Regions from separate parts of the Homo sapiens genome. Here region 2 is linked to region 1. A link means that fine-mapping ties the variant in region 1 to the expression of a gene that starts in the linked region. Tissue or cell type: whole blood. Region 1 holds a variant in brackets; the other region holds the start of a gene. All regions are shown on one strand. Distances are between the middles of the regions.

The links. PIP is the estimated chance that this variant, and not a neighbour inherited with it, causes the effect.
Region 2: it holds the start of GLUL, and the variant in region 1 is fine-mapped to the expression of GLUL in whole blood (TOPMed, PIP above 0.99).

Annotation. Positions count from the first base shown.
Region 1 is chr1:182,140,169-182,148,274 of GRCh38, forward strand. No RefSeq gene overlaps it. Among named protein-coding and RNA genes, the nearest start is that of ZNF648, 83 kb to the left of the region's middle. RefSeq lists a silencer at 3,206-3,382 and enhancers at 3,391-4,059, 4,060-4,727. The variant T/C (reference allele first, on the strand shown) is at 4,442.
Region 2 is chr1:182,387,200-182,395,305 of GRCh38, forward strand. It overlaps GLUL (glutamate-ammonia ligase), which reads right to left and starts at 4,591. Exons shown (of 7, transcript NM_001033044.4): 1 at 4,480-4,591; 2 at 1,373-1,551; 3 at 1-93. The coding sequence starts at 1,538. RefSeq lists a silencer at 4,327-5,006.

The DNA.
Region 1 (8,106 bases):
CCAGCTAATTTTTGTATTTTTAGTAGAGATGGGTTTCACCATGTTGGCCAGGCTGATCTCGAATGCCTGACCTCGTGATCTGCCCTCCTCGGCCTCCCAAAGTGCTGGGATTACAGGCGTGAACCACTGTGCCCAGCCGATCATTGCATTCTTTTTCATTCAGCACAGACCAAGCCTCCCAACTTCTTTTAGTACAGTGTTCTAGGGAGCCACTGTAGATTAATCAGAATCGGCACATGAGATGGGATCATTGCTGCCCTTGGCTTATACTCCAGTGATGTTATCTCAGATGCAGCCTCAGATTCTGATTCAGCACTGGAATCCTGAACAAGTGACATCAAATGCTGATCTACCACCATAAATTGCATTCTAGCATGTTTACTTGGAGTTTGCATGGTTTTCTTTATAAGCTCTCCTGGTGATCCTAAGGTGCAACCAAGGCTGACAACCATCTGCCTTTCTTATTTCTGACCCTTTAAATCAATCTGAAGCACTCAGGATTGCTGGCCCATAGAGAGAAACTGAAAATCCCAGCTTGCCTTAGCTACCATTACCAAAAACCCAGCTCCTTCACCTGTTCCTAACTAACTTTTACTTTGTTCTCATCCTTCTTGGCTCTCGGGTCCTGTGTTGCAATGGGTGGAAACAGCCAAGTTTCATCTCAGGCTGTAGAACCCAACCCTGATCTTTTCTCTAAACAAGCAGGAACCCTAGGAGCTAGACAGAGGCTGGGATGCTGTATCTTAGAAACCGGAGATGCTGGGGCTCCAGGAATCTTGCAGAGGGATGTAGTGCATGGAGGTGAGGGAGGGATCCAAGGGAAAAATGGAAGTTAAATTCATGGGCAACATTCCAGAGATTCATCATCAAAGCAGAGGACCTAGGCAAGGAGACTCTAGGATCATGATCCAGGGAAAACAGCACAGAGAAGGGAAGGGTTTGTAGCAGAGTTCAGGTGGTGAAGCCTGGAGAAATTCTCTAAGGTGCAGATAATACCTGCAGCTGTGGCTTACTATAAGCCTATGACCTGAGGCTGGGTGAGGTCACCCTGTAGCCTCCCTGGACCTAGCTGTTTACCTGCAGAGCTCAAGGAATTTGTGTGGTTATCCTTTTGCCACCTCAGCTTCAAATAAAAGGTTTGGCAAAGGTTTGGCTTTGGGGAGCCTAAAGCAGGATTTTGGAGATTAGCCAAAGAGACTACAGAGATTCCTTTCTTTTTTTTTTTTTTTTTTTTTTTTTTTTTGAGATAGAGTCTTGCTCTGTCACCCAGGATAGAGTGCAGTGGCATGATCTTGGCTCACTACAACCTTCGGCTCCCGGGATCAAGTGATTCTCATGCCTCAGCCTCCTGAGTAGCTGAGATTATAGGCATGTGCCACCACACCCAGCCTTTTTTCTTTTTTTTTCTTTTTTTTCTTTTTTTTGAGACGGATCCTCGCTCTGTCGCTGAGGCTGGAGTGCAATGGCGTGATCTTGGCTCATTGCAACCTCTGCCTCCTGGGTTCAAGCAATTCTCCTGCCTCAGCCTCCCAAGTAGCTGAGACTACAAGTGTCTGCCACCATGCCTGACTAATTTTTTGGTATTTTTTAGTGGAGATGGGGGTTTCACCATGTTAGCCAGGCTGGTCTTGAACTCCTGACCTCAGGTGATCTGGCCACTTCGGCCTCCCAAAATGTTGGAATTAAGACATGAGCCACAGCACCCGGCCCCTATTTTTGTATTCTTAAAAGAGACCAGGTTTCCCCATGTTGGCCAGGCTAGTCTTGGCCAACTCCTGACCTCAAGTATCTGCCCACCTCAGCCTCCCAAAGTGCTGGGATTACAGTCATGAGACGCCATGCCTGGCTGGGATACTGAATTTTGAATCAGAAAATCCAGACTTTACAATAGTCAAAACCATATCTTATTTGTCTTTCTGCTCCATTACCCAGGATTTTACTTAGAACATCAGTAGACACCTGAAAACATTGGTCAAATAGAAGTGAATAAATGATTAAAGAACAAATTAACAAGTAAATGAAGCCCGACATAAATAAAGGCCCTGCTAATCCACCAGCTACACTCGTGTGACAAAGGCCCCAGAGATACCCATGCTCTATATCCATGGAATTGTGCCATGGGGCTGGCTTACTGGGGATTCTATTTACCTGTGGTCTTGACGGGCCTCCCTGGAGAAACAGTAACCTGACATCTGGAGAGTACATTTGGCTCTGTGAACTAGGTCAGATCTGCAGACTTGTGGTTTACCCACTTAGACCCATGCCACACACAGCAGGCCCCTGATGAGAGCCCTGGCATCCTTGCCTTGTGCTTCTTCACCATCCCCTCCCAGATCTCACCTGGCCTCTTTGGTCCCAACTGTGTGTGTGCCTCCTCTCCTCTCTCTAGCTTCTTGCTCTTCTCTATGCCCTTTGCCTGACCCTGCCTCTCTGGTTCTGACCTTGGCTCCCCTCCTGTTTTGCAGTGAGCATTTACCCTTCAGATCATATCTGCAGCTGCCACTCTGGGCAAACTCCCTCTCCCTCAAACTTGGCCTCCATGTCCATTGGCCATAGGCTGATTTTCCCACTGTGCTTGGTCAGGCTTCATGGGTGGAATTCAGACACCAGGACTGGGCATCCTGGTCAAAACCAGGGGCAAACGCTCTCACCTGCATTCTTGGGCGGGAGGCAGGGGTCCCAGGCGGCCAAGAAACTCACCCCATAACTGAACAGAGGTGGCATGCCCACACTCCGTCCCTGGACAAGGGAAGCTCAAATTCAAATAGTATACAACATTGTGCTTCTCACATAGTAAAACCAGTCTTTCAGAAATGTGTCCTGAATTCCTAAGGGGAGGAAGGGAGAAAGATCCTCCAGAAAATAAAAAAAAAAATTCCAATAAAACGAAGTTGGTCCACTGGCAATATAGTACAAAACAAAGATCTTGGTAAGAAAACATCTCCCTGATTTTGGGGTTCCCATGAAAATAACACAGGTCCCCATGAAAATAACGTAGATGAAGCAGCAGAGAACTGACAAAGGCTGTGGAAACATGGAAAGAGTAATGATAACGCAGAAATCAGAGGTGAAGTAAAAGCACAAGTGAACCTTCACAAAGCTGGGCTAAGTGATATTAACGTAGCTGCTATTAACCAGAAATTCCCAGTCAAGTCAACCAGGCTTGGCAGTGGTGGCCACCAGAGGGCGCTAGAGTAGAGTCCGTGGGAGAACTTCAGCGGTGGCCCTGCAGGTTTGAGAGGCACCTTCCCGGAGGATGGATTTGAAGGGCTGAGGGTCCAGCAGTTCTGTGGGTTGGCGGCTCACAGGAGAAAGCATGAAGACATACTTCCATCCTCACACCCCCGAAGGTCCTTGCCTGGACTGGAAGCTAAAGAAGCGCATGCTACATTGTTTTCCTAGTGACAAAAATCCCAGCTGGCCTCTGGTTAACTTTTCAAACAAATGGCACTGATGTGATATTGGGCGAACTCTAGGTGTCACTGACCTAATAAAAAGAAAAAAGCTATTTGCTTCCCATTTTCCGATGCAGTGAGGATTTCACAGTGATCTCAAACACAGTGAAATACATAAAAAGAGCCTAGCTTAATGGGGGCACCCAGCAAATGCCCAATAAACATCTGTTCCCTTTCCTCAATAAACCCCATTTGCCTCTCAGCCTGCAGCCTCCCACACTGGTGGACCCACGTGCCCCTCAGAAGTGAAGCTTTTGGCCCCTGTAAAGCAGCAGCCCCTCTGGCCAGAGAGTCTTTTGTCCCAGAGCCTTTGTTGTTCCAGATTTCTCACTGTGAGGCCTCAGCAGCTGCCAGGGGGCCACCCCAGGAGCTGGAATCAGAGCTCAGAAAGACAGCAGTCCTTCTTCTGCTCCTTTCTGGGCCCGCATGCCCCAGCCCCACACCCAGCCTCAACCACACTGCCCTGCACACCCTCACCGTGCCCCCACTTCTCCACAATGTGTTTCTAATCTGCCCAGGAACAGTCACCAGCTCACTTTTCCTGCCTGGTCTCATTAGCGTGGCCTCTGGGCCTGGGCCTGGGTGTGTAGCCCAGAGGCTTGCACGGAGGTGATCAGATTGCAGGGAACAGTATGTTTCCCTCCCTGCCTCTGCTTGTTTTCTTCAGGGGCCAGGGCCAGCCAGCTGAGCTGTCTTCCTCTTCCCCGGCTTCTCATCCTCCCTCACACATGGTCTGACTTCAGTGGGTGGGGGGATGAGCAGAGGGTGTGACACACACGAGTGTGCATGACTGGCATGTAGGGAGTGTGAGTTGTGGGCAGGTTTCTTAAGGGGAGGCAAGGCTGCTACTACTCCGGGAAACAGGCCTGGGAGCCAGGGGGAGTGGAGGAGGAAGGCCAAGCTGGGGATTTGTACAGACCAGTTCTGGCCAGATCTCTTAAAATGTTTTGTTCTTGCATTGCTGCTGCTGCTGCTGTTGGTTTTTT[T/C]CCCCCCTTCCCTGTGCTGAGCTGTCATTTCTTAGTCCAGCCAGGCCCTTATGAACTTCTGGTTCCTCTAAACGGTAAACACCCTGGTTTTCCAGACTACACCATAGCTCTCTTTTCTTATTTGCCTTCAAAATACACTTTAAAAAAAAAAAAAAGAAAGTAGAAAATGGCAATATCAGTGATAAGGGCAGGGCATGCACTGAAAAAGAACAGTTCAATCTAACATTTATCGAGCCTGCCACCTTCCTCAGCTTTATTCTCTCCTTTCTTGTTCTTGGTAACAGCAGATAAGAAATCAGCTGTGGGTCAATACGTGAAAAATGTTCACTCTTTTAGAGTAGTATTAAAATAAATATTTTCAATGACAACATTAAGCAGTTAATAATTAAAGCATGTGCATATGTATACTTAAAAGGGGCTGGAGTCCCTTCTGTCCAAATCAAATTTTCCACAAGCGTTGGTAACAAGGTGGCTGGGAATGTTGAGATGTGAGACTGGCCTTCCAAGGATCAGGAGGGCAGCTGGTGGTGGGTCTGCTCTCTCTCATCACTCTCAGTGGCGACATCACCGTCCATCCTCCCCAGTACTAAGATCTGCTTCAGGAAAGAGCCTGAAACCAGCCACATGTATCTCATGTTGGTGAAGGAAAATCACAGTAGTGGTCCTCAGTGGGACTCTAAAATGACTTCACATCAGCCTCATTTGGTAAATGAGGAAACTGAGGCTCCAAGAGGTGATGTGTGTCACCCAAGTTTCCATAGCAGAGCTAGAAAAAGACCTTGTTCCTGGGGTCCTGGGAGAGGGTCCTACTGCCCAGCTCTGACGGATGAAAGGAAGGCTTTTTTCCATGGTACCAGCTGTTGCTATGGGCAACCCTAGAGATCACTCTGTGGGGTGTGGGATCCTTCGGGAGAGCTTGTGCTTCCATTTGGAGAGACTTCACAAAGAGGGTGTGCCATGGGGACTAACATAAAAAATCAAGAGTGGGGAGACAGAAAGAGGAAGGTCAGCAGAACTGTCCAGATTTCTACAATGCCCGCCCTTCTTAGGCAAGCTAAGCCATCTACGTGTTGGGGGCATGGTTGCTGGCCCTCCGGAAACCCCTCGGATCTGAAGAGCAGACAAGAGCATCTGTCATCTCACAGAGATGCCTTGGGATTTGAATACTTGTTTTGTCTTTGGCCTGGAGTTTTACTCTTAGAGCTCCTTGCCCAGATATTCCATGGTAACCCACTGTCATATTCTGCATAGTCCTCTGAGATAAATATGGAGAAATTATGGAATGCAGGGGAAAGAATTCTGAACTTCAAATGAGAAGAGCTGGGTTTGTGTCTGGCTTCACTCCTTACTTGTGTCTAATCAAAAGCAAATCAAAATTGAAAGTAAGAGCTAAATTTTTGTTAAGGTAGGATTTTAAGGCAATTGTTAAGTCAAAGATGTATCTTAAGCACCACATTCAAAACCACGTATTCTCGTACATCACTCTTACTGTATTTTCTAGACTCTAAGAAGCCATTGACTAAGACACAGCAGCGAGTTAATAACAGCTTTTAGGGGGAAAGGAGAAGAAAAATGTTTCTCTGTTAAACATACACATCAATTGTAAGACACAGGATCTCTGAAATGTCAGGTGTGAAGATCAAGCTTCTTGGAATGAAAGAAACAGTGGTATTGTTAACATTTTGAAGGAAGACTGGCTCAGGGAAGGGCAAAAGACATTTTTGAACACACGGCTACTTATCGGGTTAGTAGAATGTTCCCCAAATTCTCCTTTGTAATACCTACATCCTCTTTGGCTGTTCCCCTCCTGGTCCTCAGTCTTTTGTTTACCTGTCATTGAAACTTTCCACCAGTTTGGCCAATGGCCATTGTGTCAACTGCAGCTCAGACTTGTCCAGGCAAACACCGGCTCACTGACCAGGTGCTCACCAAGCCTCAGGGTACACATACCAGCCCCGCGGTACCATACCCTCAGGGTACACAACCACACCCACAGACACCTGGTAATACTGCTTCATACTACATTAATTTTCCTGTAAGCAAACTTTCTGACTTAAATCATTTTGTTTCAGAAGTAAAAGTGATAATTTCACTTTACATGCAAAACCTATATCACTTCTGTAGATACAAAGTAAGCATAAAAATAGTAAAATGGGCCAAGCACAATGGCTCACACCTGTAATCCCAGCACTTTGGGAGGTCGAGGCAGGCAGATCACTTGAGGTCAGGAGTTCGAGACCAGCCTGGCCAACATGGTGAAACCCCGTCTCTACTAAAAATACAAAAATTAGACGAGCATGGTGGCGCATGCCTGTAATCCTAGCAACTCAGGAGGCTGAGGCAGGAGAATCACTTGAACCCAGGAGGCAGTGGTTGCAGTGAGCTGGGATCATGCCACTGCACTCCAGCCTAGGTGACAGAGCCAGACCCTGTCTCAAAAAAAAAAAAAAAAGTAAAATGGAAACATAGAAACTTAAAAAAAAAAAAACTATGTTGATTCTAATACCTTGTGTGTAGAATAAATCCAATCAATTTATGAAAATAATTTCCTCACTGAGAAAAATGAAACTGTAATCTTTCCATAAGAAAGGAATATTCAACCCCACGTACTAAGTTTAAGAGAACAGCGAGGAGCTATGTCTGTTAGGGCCAGTTACACGTAGGAGCCACAGTACCAGCTGCCTGCAGAGTAGCTGTGTGACCACAGGTCAGTTTCTCAACATCTGTGCGCCTTAGTTCCTTGTTTGTCAAACAGAAATGAAAATAACACCAATTTGGGGGTTATTTCTGATGACTAAATGAGTTAATGCATGCAAAGCACTTATGACAGTGCCTGGTATTTAGTAAGGTCTCAATACATGTTAGCTATAATGATAATCAGTAGTCAGGGTATTACAATTAGTAGTATTCATGACTTAAAATTCCTACTCACTGGAGTTGGAGTCAGAAAGATTTTTAAGACATTAACTGTTTTCTCTCATAAGACTGGTTACTCAGGGTTAGTTTCTAACCAAAATGATGAAAGTAGCTGTTGCCCAACAACTGCTCCTTAAAGAAGCCATCTCCAGGATGGAGTGTCAGAATATGTCCAGTTAAATCTGGTCATGTTTGGAAAGTGATGGAAAGTGGGTTCCTAATCTACTCCCTGCCACATTCCAGTTTAGAAAAATACTTATATATTTTTTTCATTTTCCAAGGATCACTATGTTCAAAACAATTTTGAACTAGTTATTCAGACGACTTCATTACCATGTGCTTCAGATAATGACAATAGTTTTTGATAAAATTTGAGTCTGGTTGAACGCTTGCTTGACTAGAAGACACATGTGTGGGTCCTTGGTGTACTGTCTGGGCCAGTGACCCCTTGCTGAGCATGAACTATATGCTATGCAGGGTTAAATTATTTAATTCTCATAGTAACCCAATGATTTAGGTACTCTTTCCCCTTTTTACGGCTGAGGAAAACCGAGGCACAGAGTGGTCAAGTGACTTAAGATTACAGTGTTAATCATGGGTTTGAGACAGAATTCAGAGGCCTTCCTCGGTGCCAGAACCCTGTTCTCCAAACTCCTCGGCCTCGTGGGAGTGACAGTGTAATCTGAGGCCACAGCCCTGCCTTAGCTTTTCCCATGGGCCCTGGCCTCAGAGAAAGGCACCAGGGTGGG
Region 2 (8,106 bases), 250 kb after region 1:
CCCGAAACATGGCAGCAGGCACGAGATACATGTCACTGTTGGAACCCTCAGACTGTAAAGTACTAGAGCCATCGAAATTCCACTCAGGCAACTCTGGGGCAAAAAGAGGGAAAATTACATTTAAAACATACAGGAGCTTTCCAAGCAATGCAAATACAGCCAGCCCTTCACTCACCTTCCCATCTCTAAATATCTCTTTTCCAGGAATTCATTAAGGTATAAATGCCATCATTAATATGTATACCCTGGCACCTGTACCTGATCTTATAGCCCTTCCTATTTGAGTTCCAAGTAAGACCATTGTACCAATTCCTTAAAAGAAATATATCAGATACTCCCTTCCCAAATGTCTTCCAGGAGACAAGCTGAAGCATTCTGTTATCACTACCATCCTATCAATCACTTAAAATATTGAGATAGTGAAGGATTCTGATTCTTCCATTAGGTAATGTGTTGCATCCTTCTTATGCCCCCAGTGTATTCTGGCAAGTTATGTCCTTATTTTATAGATGAGGGAACAGACGACTAGCAGGATGACTTACTCTAGGATGCTCCCTTATCACCTATCCACCTTTCCCACTGTTTTGAAGGCTGCTTGGTCTCTCTAGCTGACTGAGTTCTCTGAAGGCAGAGACGAGACTCTCACTTTGTATCTTCAGTGTCTGTGCACTATCATCTGCCACATAGCAAGTACACAATATAGGCTTTGTATTATGATCATTCACTTACTCAAAAAGGAAAAGTAAACTACCCTAAACTAGGTAGGATATGATACTTTCCTCTGGCCCCTTTCCAGAAGAGGGAAGACTATGGCTTGTTCTAGACTGAAAAATGAAGGTCACAACTATAATCTAACTGTAGCTCCTAGAGGGATACGCAATTAGTTTAAGAATTTCCAAAAGTGGCATCAACTAAAAATTAGTCCTATTTAAAAACCATTGTAGAGCATTTGCTTCACATCTAGAAGCCAGTGATATGAGTATTAAACACAGTTTTCTAAGAGTTTGTAAACTAGATGGCATTCTCAGGTTAGAGCAGTGGTTTTCTGAGGGTGCCTTAGAGCCAGCTAAGTGGGGATGTCCAGGTCGGCAACCTCTAAGCCCCATGCCAACTCTCCATAAACCAGACTTAGTTTTTCTTCAATACACTGGCCTACGTGCACAATTCCATTGAAATAAAGGGTTCCATCGTCGCTCTGCTTTGAGGCAGTGTAGGAGCTTAATGTTGACTGAATAAAGTCTGAAAAGCCCTGCCTTAGAAAACCTTTACAAACAGAAGAAAGAGGCCTAATCCAGAGGCTGAGTCAAAGGCTGCTGCCCACCCCTCTGCAGATCCCACCCAGCATGTGCTCCACTCCACATTGCTGTCTCACCTTCCACACACTTGGGCTCACTGTCCAGGGTCCGGGTCTTGCAGCGCAGTCCTTCTCCAGTACCATCGATCCAGATATACATGGCCTGGACTTTCTCACCCTGAGGCAGGGACATGTACACCTGCTTGATGCCTTTATTTAAGTGGGAACTTGCTGAGGTGGTCATGGTGGAAGGTGTTCTGGAGAAGAAAAAAAGAATAACATTGTTAACGCCCACTCCAAACTGATCCCCTGCAAAAATGGCTCAAGAAGGACGACTGAATCAAAAGTCAGAGTGTAAGTGCCAACTCCTTCCCTTGTGGAAGTCAACACACAAAAAGTTATGTTTACTCACTCTTTCAGGGGGATTAGTTTTATAGTAGGCAAAAATCTCCTTTATAATAGGCTGTAAAACTGATCACCACCTTTTGAAACAATTAACACAGATGCCTGCTAAAGAAAAGATCAGGCCCTTGGTAGTAACTCAATGCCTCTGCATCCCTGAGCTCACAGGCTTAAGTTCCACAGCTACTGCAGAACCCAGGCTTCCAAGCTAGAACTTATACTTGTGAGGACTAAGGTCTATTCCTTCAGTGTAGCTGAGGTTAACACTAAACTATCCAAATACTAAACTATCAGAGGAAACAAATCAAAACCAATACACAAATTTACAAAACATAGAACTTCTTCCAATATAAGTAAAATCCAGCCACAGAACAGGCTTGGCTTCCACAGTTTGTTTTTCTCTTTGTCTTTCATCCTAGCTGTGGTCTTAACTCAAACCCACCGCCCCTCCCCACCAAAAGAAAACTCATTACACATTTAGATTTGAGGATGAAACAAGGTTACAATATATTTTTTTAGAAGGCTAGCAGTTTCCTACACAAAAGCTGATTCAAGCCAGATTCTAAGGGGAATGCTGCCATAATTTCCATAGGTCTCATGCAAAGTCTCACTTAAGATAGTGGGCAAGAATCACAACATTATGGAATTCTACAAGACTTGTCAAGTAATTAGGAAATTTCCACTTCTAAATCAAAAAGATCTGGAAATTTAAAAGCCATGAGGCATACTAATAACTGCCAGCCACTACCACAAAACCTCCGAAAGAAGAGAAACTCTCAAGCCACAACAGCCGAAGAGGAAACATTCTCTCTCTCCCTCCTCCCTCCGTGGACCAGGGTGGCTAGAAAGGGAACACATTGTTCTCCTCCAACGACTAGGGCAACGTTCTGAAGTACAGTGGCAAAGTTTCTACGGGCAACCGTCCATGTTTGCCCAGCTGAAAACATAACTGCTTCTCCCTCAGCCTCACCACCCTTCCCCTTGGGGAAGACCAACACCCCAATATTGCCTCTAGAAGACTCAGCCGGCCAAATCCTACTTCCCACCTCCATCCCAGAACCCTTTAGCTCCCGCTAAAAGCTACAACCCACCGAAGCGGGCAGATCACCTGAGGTACAAAGTTCGAGACCAGCCTGGCCAACACGATGAAACTCCCGTCTCTACTAAAAATACAAAAATTAGCCGGGCGTGGTTGTGCACGCCTGTAATCCCAGCTACTCGGGAGGCTGACACAGGAGAATCGCCTGAACCCCAGAGGCAGAGGTTGCAGTGAGCCGGGAGATTGCACCACTGCACTCCAACCTGGGTAACAGATAGAGACTCTGTCGGAAAACAAAAAAAAAAAACCTACAACCCAATTTCTCGGCTGTCCTCTCCAACATGTTACACCACCAATATCATGCACACTTTGTCCTAAGCCTCAGTTTCGGATCTCTTGCTCTTTTCCGTGAGCCGAGTTGCATGCCAGCAGCCTAGTGCCACTCTATCAACTGCTGCTGCTGCGGTGCCAAGTTTACGTGGGGGAAATGGATTCTGAAGTTTTCAGCAGTTTCTGCAGCTCCCACCAACTCCGGGGTCGTCCTCCCTGCCCCCTCACTCACCCCAGCCACAGAAAGTCAAGCGTATCGTTAGGGTTGCCCTCTTTAACCCTTCTCTTTTTGGAGTGGCGTTCGCGCCTCTCCTCTTTCTCAGACTCTAGCTGGTCCAAGCACCGGAGCTTTCTGGGAGAGGGCGATGGAGAAGGGGACAGACAGCGGCCGGCCCGGGGGGTGTCCGAACAGGCAGGTTGGTGGGTTAAGGTCTTAATCTTGACTCGAGATCTCTCCCCGGAGTTCACAGAGTAGGCGACGAAGCCGAAGCAGCTGGAGCGCGACCCGGAGGAGTCTGACTTCTCGTTGTCTTCATAATTTTCATTCGTTGCTTTCTTCGTGGACTTGCGGCTGGGGGAGGATCCCCGCTTCCCGCCCCCGAGGGAGTTATAATTATCCACTTTGAGAGCAGCCCCTTCCCACTGAAATGTCCCTAAAGTGGGCGCCCTGCCCCTCGGGCCCCCGTCCGAATCTCAGGGCCTCACGGAGGTGGCCATACCCTGCCGCCGAGGGGTTGGGGGGTCCGGGGGAGGGTGGGGGCGCAGGCCGTAGGGACTGCGCGCTGCTGCTGCCTCCGCCCGGACCGGCTTCTCCACTGACTGCGCCGAGGCCCGGGCTCTCCATTGTTCGGTCACATTGGAAGGCCCCCGGGACCCCGAGGCGGGAGCCGGCCGCCCAAACAACGCTCACCGTTACACGCCGCAATCGAGGCGTCTCAACCATCGCCAGAACCAGGACGATTGCTCCGAAGGCCCCACCACGAGGAAGGCAGCCAGGCGCCCGCGCCAACCAAGCGCCTTGTTTGCGCTCCACAGGGGACCGCACCGCCACTCCATCCACAGCGCAAACAAACCACTGCGAGCCCCAGGGCGCAGGCCGGCCCAACGGCCTCCAGGGGCGGCGCTTCGGCCGCAAGTAGTGAAAAGAAGATCAAAACAACTCACCCCGCCCTTCCCAGAGCCTGGCCAAGGGCGCGCCCCACCAGCGCCAGCCCCGACGGGTCCAAGCCACCAGCGGCGGAAGCACGCGGGAGGAGCACTCATGCCGGATCTCAGGCATGGGCCGGAGAGGCCGCAGCGTAGGGCTGGGACTGGAGGGGCAGGCAGCCGAAAAAAGAGGCTGGGCGGCGCGCCTCGCGGGGTAGCAGGGGCGGCGCGCCTCGCTTGCGTGACACCGGGCCGTCCGGGGGCTTACCTGGTCGCCGAGCAGGCGGGCGGGTAAAGCTAGGCCGCGAGAGCGAGGTTAGGAGAGGAGAGGAGGCCGCAGTACTGCTCACACGCTCCGCTCTTCTCCCACTCTCGACTCTGCAGAGCCGCCAGCAGCCCCGCACCCTTTATCCGCGGCCCGGGGCCGCCCCCGGTGCCCTGATTGGCTCCCAGCGGCCAGGAGCCCGGGCCGATCAGCTGATGCGGTCCCGGGCCCCGCGGCCATTGGGCGAGGAGCCCGGCGGGCGCCGCTGGGGTGGGGGCAAGCGAACTGGGAAAGAAAGAAAGAAAGAGAAAGGGGCGTGGGGGAGGGGCAGGGCGGCGTGGGGGAAGGGAGCGGAGCCGGGAGGGCTGAGGGCAGAGGGGCGAGTTGCCGCCAGGCCGGGAAGCCTCGGCTCGCCGCCCACCCGCCAGCTCGCCAGGTGCCGCCCCACGGCCCCCAACCCGGGGTCCCGAGGCTCCCAGCAAAGCCCGCCCTGGACCTCTGCCCTGCCGCCTTCACGGGGAATAGTTTTACGAGGAGAGCTCCCTGGGGAAATGCGGAACCAGGGAAACCGAATTTAGCCTTTTGTTGCGAGGGAGCCTCCGAGCCCCGCTTCCTGCGGGCAGGGGTTAGCTTGAGAGGGAGCGCGGGGCGCGGGACCCGAGGGAACTTTGGGCGGGCCTGGGCTAGGGCGGGTGCCGCGCGGGCCTGGGGACAGGCCGGGGTTCCCAAGGCCTGGAAGAGCCGCCCGCTCCGGCTCTCTTGGGTCTGGGGAAATAAACAGAACTCTGCCATTTCACATTTGAAATCAACGTGCTGTTTCTCTAATTTTACAGAGAGGATTCTGGAGGGCGGTAGAAACTAAGTCTGGAGACCTGTCTCATACTGCTGGCCAGACCCTAGGCAGGTCTTTCAGGGCCCAAGTTTCCTCATCTGCAAAATAAAGTGGTCATCGAAAATGACCTGTGGAGCCGCCCACTAGATTTGAAATTCTGTGTGCAAACTGCCCCCGGAGCAGCTGAAAGGAAATCGAGGTGTTCACTTGCCCCCTTTGAAGTCCAGGGATTGTCAAGAAATTCCTTTAACGAATTCTCCCTGATTTTGCTTTATCAAGTGCGGCTTCTTGTTAATCTGGAAAATGGGAATACATACCTCTCCTCTCAGCTTGCCGTGATGGTTGGGAAAATGTGTATGTGAACACAATATTGAAATGTACCTAGAGACACAACATAGGTAGGTAGGTAGGTAGGTAGGTAGATACTGCTATCCGTACTATTACTCGATCATTCTATTTTTAGTGCCTGAAATCTACCTGATGGTGTCCAGATTTTATTGCTTCTTTCAGTTTAAAGAGCAAGAATTTATGCTTCCAGTGCCTTTGGAAGAGGAAGGGAAGAAGTTTGTTCTGGTTATGTTTTGTACCGCAAATGTGGAAAAGAAATGTTGCCTGCAACCACACACACATAACTTGGCTTCTTTGGTCAACATCCCTTTCCTTTAAGAGTGTATAACACTGTAGTGCTTTTACATGACAGATGCAGCATTCATCTCAAACAGGGTTTTTTGGGATGTTTCAGACTGGTGACATTTTGGATTGGGTAAGGTGCCTTACAAATTCCTTGTTAAATTTCAGTGCTGCCCCTTGAAGCATTACATTGTGGTGGCTAAAGGCACGGCTGCAAGTCAGGTAAACCTAGGTTCAAATCTGGGCTTTCCCTTCATACCAGCTTTGTGTTGGCCAAATCACTTAGCCACATGAAGCCTGTTTCTTTGTCTATAATAAAAGAGGGATAATCATTTTTACCTCATAAAAGGATTAATTGTGATAGCACATGCAGAAGAGATTGAGTAGTCCTTGGTGCATCGTAAATGTTTAGAAAACAGCAATTATAATTATCATAGGCCAAGTTCTATAATCTGAGGTGATTGGATTCTTTCTTTCCCCATAGCGACTTTTGAATACAACTTTTCTGACTCAGTGTAATGCTTTACCATTCATTATATCAAACTGGACTTAACCTTGGTAACACAGTGAGCTGTCTTCATCTCTTTCTGTAAAGGTTTGAGTTTAAATGGTCGAGGAAGGGGAGCAAAGGAGGAGAAAAGTGATATTTTTATTTTAAAAGATGTTATTAATCATTTCCAGATACCAAACTACCGAACCATAAGCCAGAGCCTCTGCTGCACACACCACCAGCCCCTGAGGTGGGGATGACAAACATAACAGAGAACGGAATGGTAAGGCGTGAGTGCGGTTCTGCAGGCTTATGGTATTTCTGCCATTTGAGTGCCTGCTTCCCTTCCTAGATGTCTTGACCTCATTGAGCAGTTTATTCATTGTCATATCCCCCAGTAGTGTCCACGGTGAGTGTTCAATAAATGATATTTGTTAACCACACAGAAGTGACAGCAGCACCATCAAGAGAACATGTGCTTTGAGCTGCTTTTCCAAGAATGGAAATGGATTTGCTTTGATCCATTCATGTGACCAGGGGCACGCTTTGTAAGGGTTAGGAACATAATACATGACCACTGACTCTTTCAGGAGTGAACAAGAGGCCTTGTCCTCCTTGGCCAGCCCCACATTTACTTAAAATGATGAAATTAGGGCGCAGATGAGTCCAAGAACTGACCAGGGAGGCTTGAGCATAGGCGAGAAGTAAAAGCAGAAGAAAACCCTTAACTGGTTCACCCGCAGAAACCCAGACTGTACTTTTAGAGAAGTTAAAAGTAAAACAGCCTGTTTCATCCAGTTTGACTTTGCTGTGTCTGCTGCCCTTTCTTCTCCTTCCCCTTCTTCCCTAAATTGCCACCCGCCCCCATTCTTCACCCCCACCATAAAAAGAGCATTAGAATGCTTGAACCCATGAACTTTTCTGTTTCTTGGTACACACCATATCAGTGCTGACAAGGGGTTCCATTGCATGTGCTTTGAAGTCATATTTTTCTCTCTTAGAGTAGAATTGCCATGTCCAAGGGGTGGGTGGAGTGGGAGAGCAATTACAGGGAAAGATTTTGTTCCAAATCTGCAGAAATAGCCTGAGATTAAAAGTATTTCTTCAATGTTGTTCTGCTGCCTGAAATAAAAGCTTTGTATTAGGATTTTGCTCTACTCCCAAATCTTATCTCTATTAGGAAACAACTTTTCTCTTTTTTTTTTTTTTTTTTTTTTTTTTTTTTGAGACGGAGTCTTACTCTGTTGCTCAGGCTGGATGCAGTGGCGCAATCTCGGCTCACTGCAACCTCCACTCACTGTAACCTCTGCCTCCCGGGTTCAAGCAATTCTCCTGCCTCAGCCTCCCAAGGAGCTGGGATTACAGGCGTGTGCCACCACACCCAGCTAATTTTTTGGTATTTTTAGTAGAGACGAGGTTTCACCATATTGGCCAGACTTGTCTTGAACTCCTGACCTTGTGATCCGCCTGCCTCGGCCTCCCAAAGTGCTGCGATTACAGGCGTGAGCCACTGTGCCCGGCCCTTTCTCTGTCTTTTAAAGGATCCATTCTCACTCTGCAAGTATGAAGTCCTTTACCTGGGGATCTGGAGTGCCTTCCCAGGGCCTGTGTGGTTGCCTTATACACATTAGACACAAAATTTAGGGTAGGGCTCACATTGACCAAACCTTTTCTGTTT